Linked DNA regions of Homo sapiens: region 2 is linked to region 1. The links come from fine-mapping of genetic effects on gene expression. Tissue or cell type: gastroesophageal junction. Region 1 holds a variant in brackets; the other region holds the start of a gene. All regions are shown on one strand. Distances are between the middles of the regions.

Region 1 (5,147 bases):
GCCACTAAAACCCCCCTTTGCTGTCGCTTGTCAGTCGGGGGCTGCCAATATGCCCATGCCTCTTCACGTCCGTCTGTGGCTTCTGTTTGGGCCCATGTCTTTGTCTCTTTGCTCTCTCTCCCTCTGGGGCTCCTCTGCTCCAACAAAAACCCACAGCAGAATCCTGGGCACATCACAAATAGTTTTCATTAAGAATAACGACAAAGGTTACCCATTGGGTACAATGTTTGCTATTTGGGTAATGGGTACGCTAGAAGCCCAATCCCCACCAGTACACAATATACCCATGTAACAAGCATGCACATGTATCCCCTGAATCTGAAGGAAAATTTAAATTGAAAAAAAGTTCTACTTAAAAAAAAGTAATTAAAAAGAAAGCTTCAGAGAAGGAAAGAGGAAATTAGATTTTATTCTAAATTTGTCTGACACAGGCAATTCCCCAGGGACACAACTGAAAATGTAAAGGCCCAGAAAAATCACAGGGGAAAAAAATAATTTCCCCCTGTTTCTCCCAAAGACTTCTTTGAAATACACGATTTCAAATACGTTTCTGGATCCTAAAACTTTTTAGAATGAATAAAGTGTCTAGGATAGGGTATTTTTATGTTCCCCAACCATTCCTAAAAATTACACCATAAGATTTTAAGTTAAAAAAGCTACATCAATCTTTTCGTCTGCATATAATGATGCAACTTGTTTGACATTCCTTTCCAAATGACCTACAGAAAAATCAATTGTTCCTGAGAATCCAAGTACATTTCCACTTATAAGTACAGAGGAATTAAAAATGGATTACTGTAATGAAAAATGGCCAGGCACAGTGGCTCACACCTGTAATCCCAGCACTTTGAGAGGCCAAGGCAGGAGGATTGCTTCTAGCCAGGAGTTCAAGACCAGCCTGGGCAATATAGCAAGACCCTGTCTCTAAATTAAAAAAATTTTTTTTAAGAAATTAGCCCAGCAGGTTGCACTTGCCTGTAGTTCTAGCTACTCTGTCCTAGCTGAAACAGGAGGATCCCTTGAGCCCAGGAGTTGGAGACTGCAGTGAACTATGATTGCACCACTGCACTCCAGCCTGGGTGATACAGTGTCTCTTAAAAAAAAAAAAGAAAGAAAAAGAAAAATGAGAAAAATGTTGTCCCCAGCAACTCCAGCTTCTGTGAAAGTACTGGATCTAGGATTTGGAGGCACATCTATGAAGAGGTAAAAGGGGAATGGCCACAGCATTTGATAGATCTACCCCCAGAAAGCTCCCAAACCCCAGTGCCCAGCTGCTCACTGCTGCAGATAGCTGGAATCTTGCGGGAGGAGGTGTGAGCTCGGAGAAAGCTAGGGGATCTCCCAAGCAAATCCCATCCCCCAACAGGGTGGCCACGCCAGCCTATGGTTCCAATCTGCCCCTTCCGTCTTCTACTACATGTGAAAAGAAATGGAGCCATATTTGGAAAAACATAGTCCAAATCAAGAAATAAATTAACATGTGAAAAGAGAGAGAAGCTTGTCCCAATTTAGGCAAATCTTCAGTTTTCAGGACTCTGGGAAGATGATAAAAATGAAGTGTTAGTAGAATCAAAAATGACTCAAGGTGATGGCTCAAAGAATGGGGCTGATTAGATAAAATTCTATGGAGTAAATTGTGTTCAATGAGATTTAAAGGTTTCCCTCTCCTTTCTTTTCACAATTCCTTTTCTGAAAATAAGTGCTTTTCTGTTTCTTGCCAACACCAAGTCCAGAAAGCATAATACTGTCCTTTGTCTTACTCTAAGTGTGTTGTAGATGGATTCTTCTGTTCAAGCCTTTGCCTACTTATTAAAAAGTGTCAGAAGAAAGTGGATGCGAGACTTCTGAAAGGACAGGTGCTTTGATAATGGGAAACTTGAAATTATTAGCAGAGCAAACTGCAACATACAATTTGATATACCCAAAAAGCTAGTTACATGTTTATTAAATCAATTATATACAACCATTTTTGACATTTTGAAACAAAGAGACATGAGATCTTCTGAAAAATCACCAAAACCAAAGTTGCATACAAATTTTCATTTTCCTTCTAATATTTGAAAAACAAATGATCTCTTTTCCCTGTGCATCCAAAGAATGTTTAAATCCAAGATAAGTCACTCCTGTTGCTCCTCATAAGGCAAGAGAGGCAGGAGGGGGCACTGGGAGATGAGGCAGGCCCAGAGCATATTTGTGTGTGTGTGTGTGTGTGTGTGTGTGTGTGGTGTGTAAGTGTGCTGGTCTTCCCTCTACTTCCCTGCAATGCAAATGGTGGGTAGAAAGGAACACACACACAGACACACACACACACACATACAAACATGCACTCATTTGCCAAGGGGGTGTCCACTCAGCCAAGAAAAAACTCTCAGCTGAAGTTAACCCTATAACCCTGCATTTGCTCTACCATCTTCAAAAGAGGTTTGAAATTCTTTCCCAAACTTTGCTGCACTTTCCATGAGAATGGGGATGTTCCTGCATAAAACATGAGTTTAGGAGGGCCCGGCCGTGAGCTAGCAGGCCTTGGGGAGCTTGTGTGGGGCCCGGGATTGTGGGGAAGAAGAACAGAGAGGTGGGGGAAGGGAAGGGAGGCTGTTTTCTCAGGCTGCATTTCTTGCAGGCTCCTTGGAGACCAGAGAAAGGCCAGGAAAGGTCTCAGCTGGGGCTGGGCCCTCACAGAACCGGCGGAAAAAGGGATGCTGCACTTAACCCCATGGAGCCAGATGGGCTGGGGTTTGAGGACCTCCAGTAAAGTGATGCCGGGAAGGCAGGGGAGAGAGAGAGAGAGAGATTGGAGAGGGTAAAGTCCTGGGAAGGGAAA[A/C]ATGCAGGTGGAGGGGGGAATCTACTAAACATTGAAGATGCAGTCTTGTCCCCCCCATAAGTGGGTTCACAAAGGACAGGGACAAAAGTTCTACTTCTGTTGGTATCTCCACAGAATCCAGCCAGTGGCGGGCCTTTTACATGCTGTTTTTGAATGGCTGCAGGTGGGCAGGCAGGATTCTTATCCTGCTATCAGCACCCCACTGAGTAGGATTTAGGGGTCTGCAAGAGGTCCTCTCCCTCAAACTGGTTATTAGCACTGCTTGAATTAACTCAGCAATGGGCTAAATGCCAGCAGCAGGAGAGAGATGTTTGGGCATTCTGCTCCTTGGGGATAGAGCCCTCATGAAAATCACTGAGGCACCACTCTCCCCAGAGGCTCGGAAAGGGCAGGAGTGTTTATGCTGCTGGGGCAGCAGAGGTTCTCAGGTGGCCATGGTGTGTGCTATGGACGGACGCCCTGTATTGGTCACTGGATTGCACACATACCTCTGCAGCCTCCTCCTGACAGGGACTGGGAGAAGAGAGCCACTGAAATTAATGGGGATGTAAACTACCTTGAATCCCTTTCTGGAAAAATCAGGACATAAGTAGTGAGTTTTGTTGGGGTTGGGTTTTTGAAATTTATTTTTTTTTTCAATTTGGAGAATTTTATGATACCTGCAAAATAGCTGGCAGTGCTCCAGAATGTGGTTACTGGATCTTTGCAAGTCACTGGTTACTTACCGCAAGTTGGAAAATGCTGAGACCAGCCATAGAAGGAAGTGCAGTTGGAAGGGGGGCCTCAGAGATGTGCAACAGTAGTGGTCTTCAAACCTGAGCTGCATCAGAACCACCCAGAAGCCATGCAGAAACCCTGGCTGCTGGCCCCCAGCCACAGAGATCCTGATTCTCCCTCTGGGGTGAGACTCGAGAATCTGCATTTCAAAAAGTCCCCAAGTGATGCTGCTGCTGCTGGTGCAAGGAACACACAGGGAGAATGACTGTTCTAGAAAACCCCTCCTTTTGTAGGTGAGGAAACTGAGGCGATAGGGTTTTAATGGCAGAGCCAGGAACTCACAGCCAGGTTTCCTGAAAAGAAGGTGTGGCACCCAGCTCTAGCATGAAACCCCAGTGTGGAGGTGAGGCAGAAGGGAGAGGACAAAACCCATACCCAGCTAAAATCAAACACCGTCTGTATCCTCCATGTGCTAAAGTCAAGTCTACAGAACCCCAACCACCTGGATCCCACTGGAGGGGCGGAATGGGAAACTGAGAATGAAGCAACCAGTTGGACAGGCAGACAGCAGCAGGAGGAAGAGAGGGAGCACACAGATTACAGAAAGCAATTAACACAGAGTGGACAATTCAGGGACACTGGGGAGCCTCCTGCCAGCCCTGGGGAGCACAGATTAACAAGCCTCTCTAGGACTTGGCAGTTGGGAGCAAGCCTGCTGCTTCCAGCTGTGACTTGACCTCACATCTGTTATCTCCTAAGGCCTTGGGGTGGGGCCTGGAAAGCTCTGCTGGGAGAATGGCCAGAAAAACCAATTAATCTCGCCTCATCTGGGCTCTCATGCCCGTGAGGGCTACCACACCTCAATCAGCCTTGTCCTCCTCGAGACTGGGAGCTCCTCGAAGCCAGAGACACATCACCTAGCTCTAATCTGGTAAGCATTCGGTAAAAGTTGGATAAAGAAATGAATGCAGGCATGAATGCAGCCCTTCTGCTCTGGAGAAGCAGGCTCTGCCATCAGTGTACTTAAGAGGAATCCCATCGCGTAATCCCACCTGCTGGGGAGGGCCAGTGGGGCTTCTGTTGCTAATTGGCACAGTATGGACAGAAGTCCCTCTTCTCCAAAATGTCCCCTCTACATCTTTCTCACTGCTCCGCTAGAGGAAAACAATCTTTTTGCATCTAACCAGCATATGTTCGGAGAGAGTCCACACCCCTGCTCTGGGAGACTGGTCTTGGAATCCCTAAACTTATGAGAAGCTCCTATTGTCCACAGATGGCCCCTTGTCCCATCAGTTTCAGATGGGAGGCTCAGAGCCCCTGCAGATTCCCAGCAGCCGCACAGAGGCTGCTGGTGGGTCAAGGAGGGCTGTGAGCTGGGGTCTGCTGCCTGATGTTGCCAGGCTTAGTTGTGGGGAGAAAGGTCCCAAGTGCAGAGCTGCACTGAGGCTGCAGAGGCAGTGTCCTGGCTCTGAACCTTCCCCTCATAGTCGACCCTAGACTGGCCCACCAGGGCTCTGGTAAGGCTTCCTGATTCCGTGCCTGGTCTCATGGACATGTGCTGTGCCTTCTATGGCAGCCCACAAGGGCCTCTGGGGCTCTGAAGGACCTC
Region 2 (5,147 bases), 460 kb after region 1:
AAGGCAATGACAATGGAAAACCCTTAAGAGGTTCTATTCGAGAAGGCAGACACCAGTGGGCAGATGTGTGCACTGGGGTCCAAGGTGAAGAGACTTGCCTGTAGCAAGGGCCCAGTGGACTCTCACAGTGGAGCAGCATGCAAACAAGCAGGTTCAGAAGCAATCATGGATGAGGACCAGGAAACCAGACCACAGGACACTAAAGGGAGATATGGTATGGATGGCAGGGGGGCTCCTCTCACCCTGAGGTCAGGATAGCCAACATGCCCCTCTCACAGAAGCCTTTAAGAGAGTCACCAGCTAACCAGGCAAAAGTTGTATTTCTTCCTGAACCTGCAGTTCTAGACTCACCCAACAAATCCCAGCAGGGATAAAATGTCCCTACCACAAGCAATGACCAGGGGCACCCACTTGAAGGGGTCATGATGTTCAACAACAGCTTTCTGCTCAGGCCGGAAGGGGAATTGCCACCACACACATCTCGGAGGCTCCTTCCCACTTTAGCGAAGGGCAGGTTTTTGGCTTGGGGCGCTCTGCTAACTGAAACAAACTTGTCAGTCCTTCTGCAAGTTCAGGGATATCTCCAGCTACCAAATCCCCAGCCTTAGACAGGTGGCAGGCTCATGCTACCTCCTCCTTACCACTGAGCAAGGGGTGCAGGGTGTCCCCTCACCAACCCTCTATCCAGGGCTGGATTAACAAAGCAGCAGTGGCACTCACGAGGGGGTGGCTGCTAGAGGGTCCAGCCACTTTCGTTAGGGGCCTTTTGTATATAGGAACAGAAGCTCAGGAAGAGATGGGAAACACTCCTTATAATTTTCTCCTCCAACCTTCCTCACTGCATTCCCACAGTGATGGCTACAGTTCAGTACACGTTATCTAAGGGGCAAGGAACACTGCAAACGACACAAGGGCACTCTTTTTGTAAATGAAGCCGCTGGGGCTCAGAGTGGGGTAAGAAGCTCCCAAATAGCCTACATGGCCGAGCCCTGTCTCTCTGGCTCTTTTCACCATTCGAAAGGGTGAGGGTGGGATCCCTTTCTTTGGAGTCCAGCTGAGGCCTGCCCGCCCCGCAATCCAGTCCCGGTGGCCAGGTCGGCCCCTACCTGCTTCAGCAGGAACTGGTCCTGGGCGTTGGTGCGCAGGGCGATGGCCAGGTGGAGGGCGGACAGGAGCACCCCGCTGAGCACTGCGGCCCGCATGCGCACGGGCAGCAGCGTGTAGATGGTGTAGATGAAGAACACGGTCCACCAGATGCCCTCAGAGGCGCTGCGTGGCTGCGGCAGCAGCAGGCCCACCACCTGGACGGCCAGCACCACGGCGATGAGCGCATAGCAGGCCAGGCCCATGTGGTCCTGGTGGAAGGCGGCGCGGTTGCAAAGCACAGCCATGATGAGGATCACGCCGACGGCGGCCGCCAGCACGGCCAGGTAGGGCAGCTGGAGCGGGGGCCGCGCCGCGTGGAAGGCCAACATGACCAGGCACACGAGCACCAGCACGGCCATGAGCATGGTGAGGCTGCTCTGGTTCAGGCGGAAGAAGTAGCGCTGGTACAGCCGCTCCAGTTTGTCCGACGGGAACTTCTTGGAGCGGAATATCTGCAGCAACGCCAGGCAGCAGGCGCCCAGGGACAGCACCGCGCCGGGCCCCGCGCCCGAGCCCGAGTCCGCCGAGCTGCCGCCATCCCCGGACCCCTCGCCGCCCTCGACGGCGCCGGCCTCCAGCTCGTCGGCCGCGCGCCCCTTGCCCCGCCGCTCCTCCAGACCCACCTCCACCGAGCGAGGGCGCACCTCCGTCCCGCCCGCCGAGGCAGCCGCCGCCGCCGAGCCGCCGCCGCCGCCCGCAGGGGGCGCCCGGGTGCTGCCCCCGCTGGCCGCGCCCCGCCGCTGCCGGCGGCTGCCGCGACCGCAGTCGTCGCCGCCGCGCTCCTGCCAGGCGGACTTGGAGCGGAAGCTGAAGCCGAAGCCCCCGGCCAGGGGGTCGTCACCGCTCAGCGGAGGATCGTCGTCGTCGTCGCTGCGCCAGCGGCTGGCCAGGCGCTGCTGCTGCTGCGGGGTCACCGCCCCCCCGGGTTTCTTGGTGGAGCCGCGGGCAGAGCCCCCGGGGGCATGGGGGTAGCCATTCGCGCGGGAATCGGCCTCGCCCCACGCAGAGCGGTGTTCGGGGCCTCCCCGGGGCGCCGGCGCCGCAGTCTTCTGCGCCGCGTAGCCCGGGGGGCTCACGCTTTTGGAGCCGGACATCCCCCCCTCGGCCTCGTCGTCTCCTTCCTCCTCCCCCGGAAGCCGGGCCGGGGGTCTCCAAGGGGAGGGCGGACGGCCGAGCAGGGGGACCAGGCTAGGGTCACACGTCGGGGGCGGCCCGGGGCCCTGCGCTGCAGCGGGGCATCTTGGCACCCCCGTCCTGAGCGGAGGAGGAGGGCACAGCCCCGAGGTGAGAAGTAGCTGAGGATCCGCGTCAGAAGTCCCAGGTCCGAAATGGAGTTGCCTCCGAGGTGGGGTCGCAGGGACTGGTCTGGCTGCTGCTGCGCCGCACGCGGAGAGACGTCCGGGATCCTGGCTCGCGTCGAGCTCGACGAGGGCCGGAGTTGCGGACGAGACGGGACGGAGTGGTGTCCTTGCGGGCGGTGCCTCCTCGGGCCGGCAGTGCCCGGGCGCGGCGCTCGCTGATTCCGCCTAAGCGGAGCCCAGCTGCTCTCGGGGCTCGGCGGCGGCGAGGGCGGCTCGGCGGGGGTCCCGGCGAAGAGACACTGCGGGTGCGCTTTCCTCGCAGCGGACTGGGAGCGACTGGGAGGTGCGGGCGCCAGCCAGCATTATTTTCTTACGAGGGGTGGGGAGGTGGGATGGGAGGTGGAGAGGACGGGGGAGGGGGCGACGGGCGGAGCAACAGCTCCGGAGCCCCGGGGGGGAGGGTCCTGGAGCCCGGGGGGGCCGTTGCCCGCATCCCCCACCTCTCGCGGCGAGAGTGGATGCGTGGCCCCGGCGAAAGCCGAGCCGAGCCTTCGGCGCGTCCGCGCAGGGGGCGGGGTCCGGGTCAGGGACCGGCTCCTGCGGTGCGGCCCTTCCCCTCTCGCCTCTCCCTTTCCCGCAAACGGAGCGGGGCCGGCCGGGACCTGCCGGCCCGGAGAGCTGTCGCGCCCGCTTCGCAAGCCCCAAGCTCCTCGTCGCCGGCTGCGGGCCCACCGCGGCCGGCGCGGAACGACTAGGCGGAGGACGGAATCCGGCGCAGCGCTGCCGCGGTTCTGCCCCGACGCAGGCAGGCTTCTCCCGGGGAGTAAGGCATCCAGAGATCCAGCGCCGGGGCTCAGAAGCAGCCGGCCCAGAGGGGCCCGCCTGAGAGCCGCGGCGCCCGAGAGGCGCTCCGGGGGGGCCCGCGGGAGCCCGGCTCAGGGCGCGCCATGCACGCTTCGGGCCCTGCGCCGCTCCGGCCGCTCGCGCCGCTCCTCCCTTCTCGCCCGCTCGCCGCCGCCGGAGAGCCCTCCGCATCCCCTCCTCCCGCTGCCTCCCCGCCCCCCGCGCCGCCCGGGCCTCGGCTCACAGCCGCGCGAGGCCGCCTCCGCCCCCGGCCTGGCCATGGCCCCAGCCTCGGCGCCCCGCGGGCATCCTCAGGCCTGGCCGCGGGCACCCCAGTTCCCCTTCCTCACCTAAAATTCTCGCTGCGCCCCTCCCTCCCTGGGACTAGGAGCCGCATCCAGCCTGCGGTCCCGTCACCAGACCTGGGTGGAGCGCGGTCTTCCCCCGCCCCCGGCCAGGGCTCCAGCGCCCCCAGTCCTAGCTCCCCTCTTTTGTATCCCCCTTTAATCCCCCTCCCCCCATTTAACCCAACTTCAGCCCCGGCGCTGCGCCCCCCTTCCCTGGCCCGGCTCGATTGGCCGCTTCCGGAGCTGTCAGACTACAGTCCGGCGCTCTTATTGGGCGATTCTCTGGCCCGGCGGCTGTGCCAAAGGAGGGCGCACCGGGTGGGGGGCGCCTGGGCAGCGAGTGCCTCAAGGAGAAGGAGAACAGAGTCCCTGGAGGGGTCTCAGGGGCCGGAGAGCCAGACCCGGAAATGGACAGGGGAGATGCAGAAACAGGACTTCTGAGACGCAGGAAGACAGTGATGGAAAAGATGGTGATGCAGTGGGTGAGGCCGATGCAGCCGGGGCGGGGCGGACAGGGAGGCTTTGGTGGGTAGTTACCAGGAGAAAGCCCCACAGTGAACACTGGAAACACCTGGCTTTTATAAAGCGCTCTTTGCCTGTTCGTAAAGTCTCATAAATCTCACTTGGTTCCCGTCAGTAATCCTAGGATGAGACAGAGGACAGAGACCGTGTAGCTATTCCCAGCTTATAGATGCAGAAACTGAGGCTCTGGGAGCTTATTCAACTTGCTATAGGTCACACAGGTCTACTAACTTGGCACCCAAAGGTCCTTCGTCAGCGCCAGACTGCCTCCCTAACCTAACAAGGTGTTAGCAGGAAGGATGGGCACCTGAGCAAGCTGGCGTGCCCACTTGGGGGGAAGCAGGGGAAGGGGAAAATGGCTAGATACACAGCACCAGCCACAAGAGGCAGGAATGGAGAGAAGGATTCGACTGCTAGGCAAAAAGGACGTAGGCCTGTAGAATGATGTGTCTACCCAATTCCCTTTGCCCCCAAGCTGTCCTGCTGGAGTTCTGACAGTCTAAACCCTGGAGAGGTGGGAGACCACACTCCTACCCAGCCTGGGGGTAAACAGCTTTTACTTTCCCCTTCTTCATCCTCCAACTCTCTCCCCAGAGCTTCTGACAGGGAGCCTAGAGGTCTAAGTGAGCTTCCTTCTTTGTCTCTCTCTGCTGGTCATCTCTGCAGACTGGAAGATAAACCTTGCCAGAGTTACAAATTGGGAGGAGAAAAATTCCAAGAGGTCAGAATAAACTAACCCTTGGGTAATCCAGCCTTTGAGTATTCCACTATTAGCCAAGTTGTAAAAAAAAACATGAATTTAGTCAATAAAAATTCTAGAGAACCCTCAATGTACAAAGCATTGTGCTAGTTGCTACCAGGATAGAGAGATGACCAAACTCTAGACCGGGAACAAGTCGAACAAGTCAGTGACGGAGAAGAGCTAGCCACTATCTCTAGGTCAGAGCAAAGTTCTGGGTTCAATAGAAGTGCAAACAGCACCTCGGGC

Evidence for each region. PIP is the estimated chance that this variant, and not a neighbour inherited with it, causes the effect.
Region 2: it holds the start of ADCY5, and the variant in region 1 is fine-mapped to the expression of ADCY5 in gastroesophageal junction (GTEx, PIP above 0.99).

Annotation. Positions count from the first base shown.
Region 1 is chr3:122,984,402-122,989,548 of GRCh38, forward strand. The region is part of intron 1 of SEMA5B (semaphorin 5B); the gene reads right to left. Among named protein-coding and RNA genes, the nearest start is that of SEMA5B, 41 kb to the right of the region's middle. The variant A/C (reference allele first, on the strand shown) is at 2,822.
Region 2 is chr3:123,446,306-123,451,452 of GRCh38, forward strand. ADCY5 (adenylate cyclase 5) reads right to left here and starts at 2,785. Exons shown (of 21, transcript NM_183357.3): 1 at 1,107-2,785. The coding sequence starts at 2,240. RefSeq lists an enhancer at 947-1,846.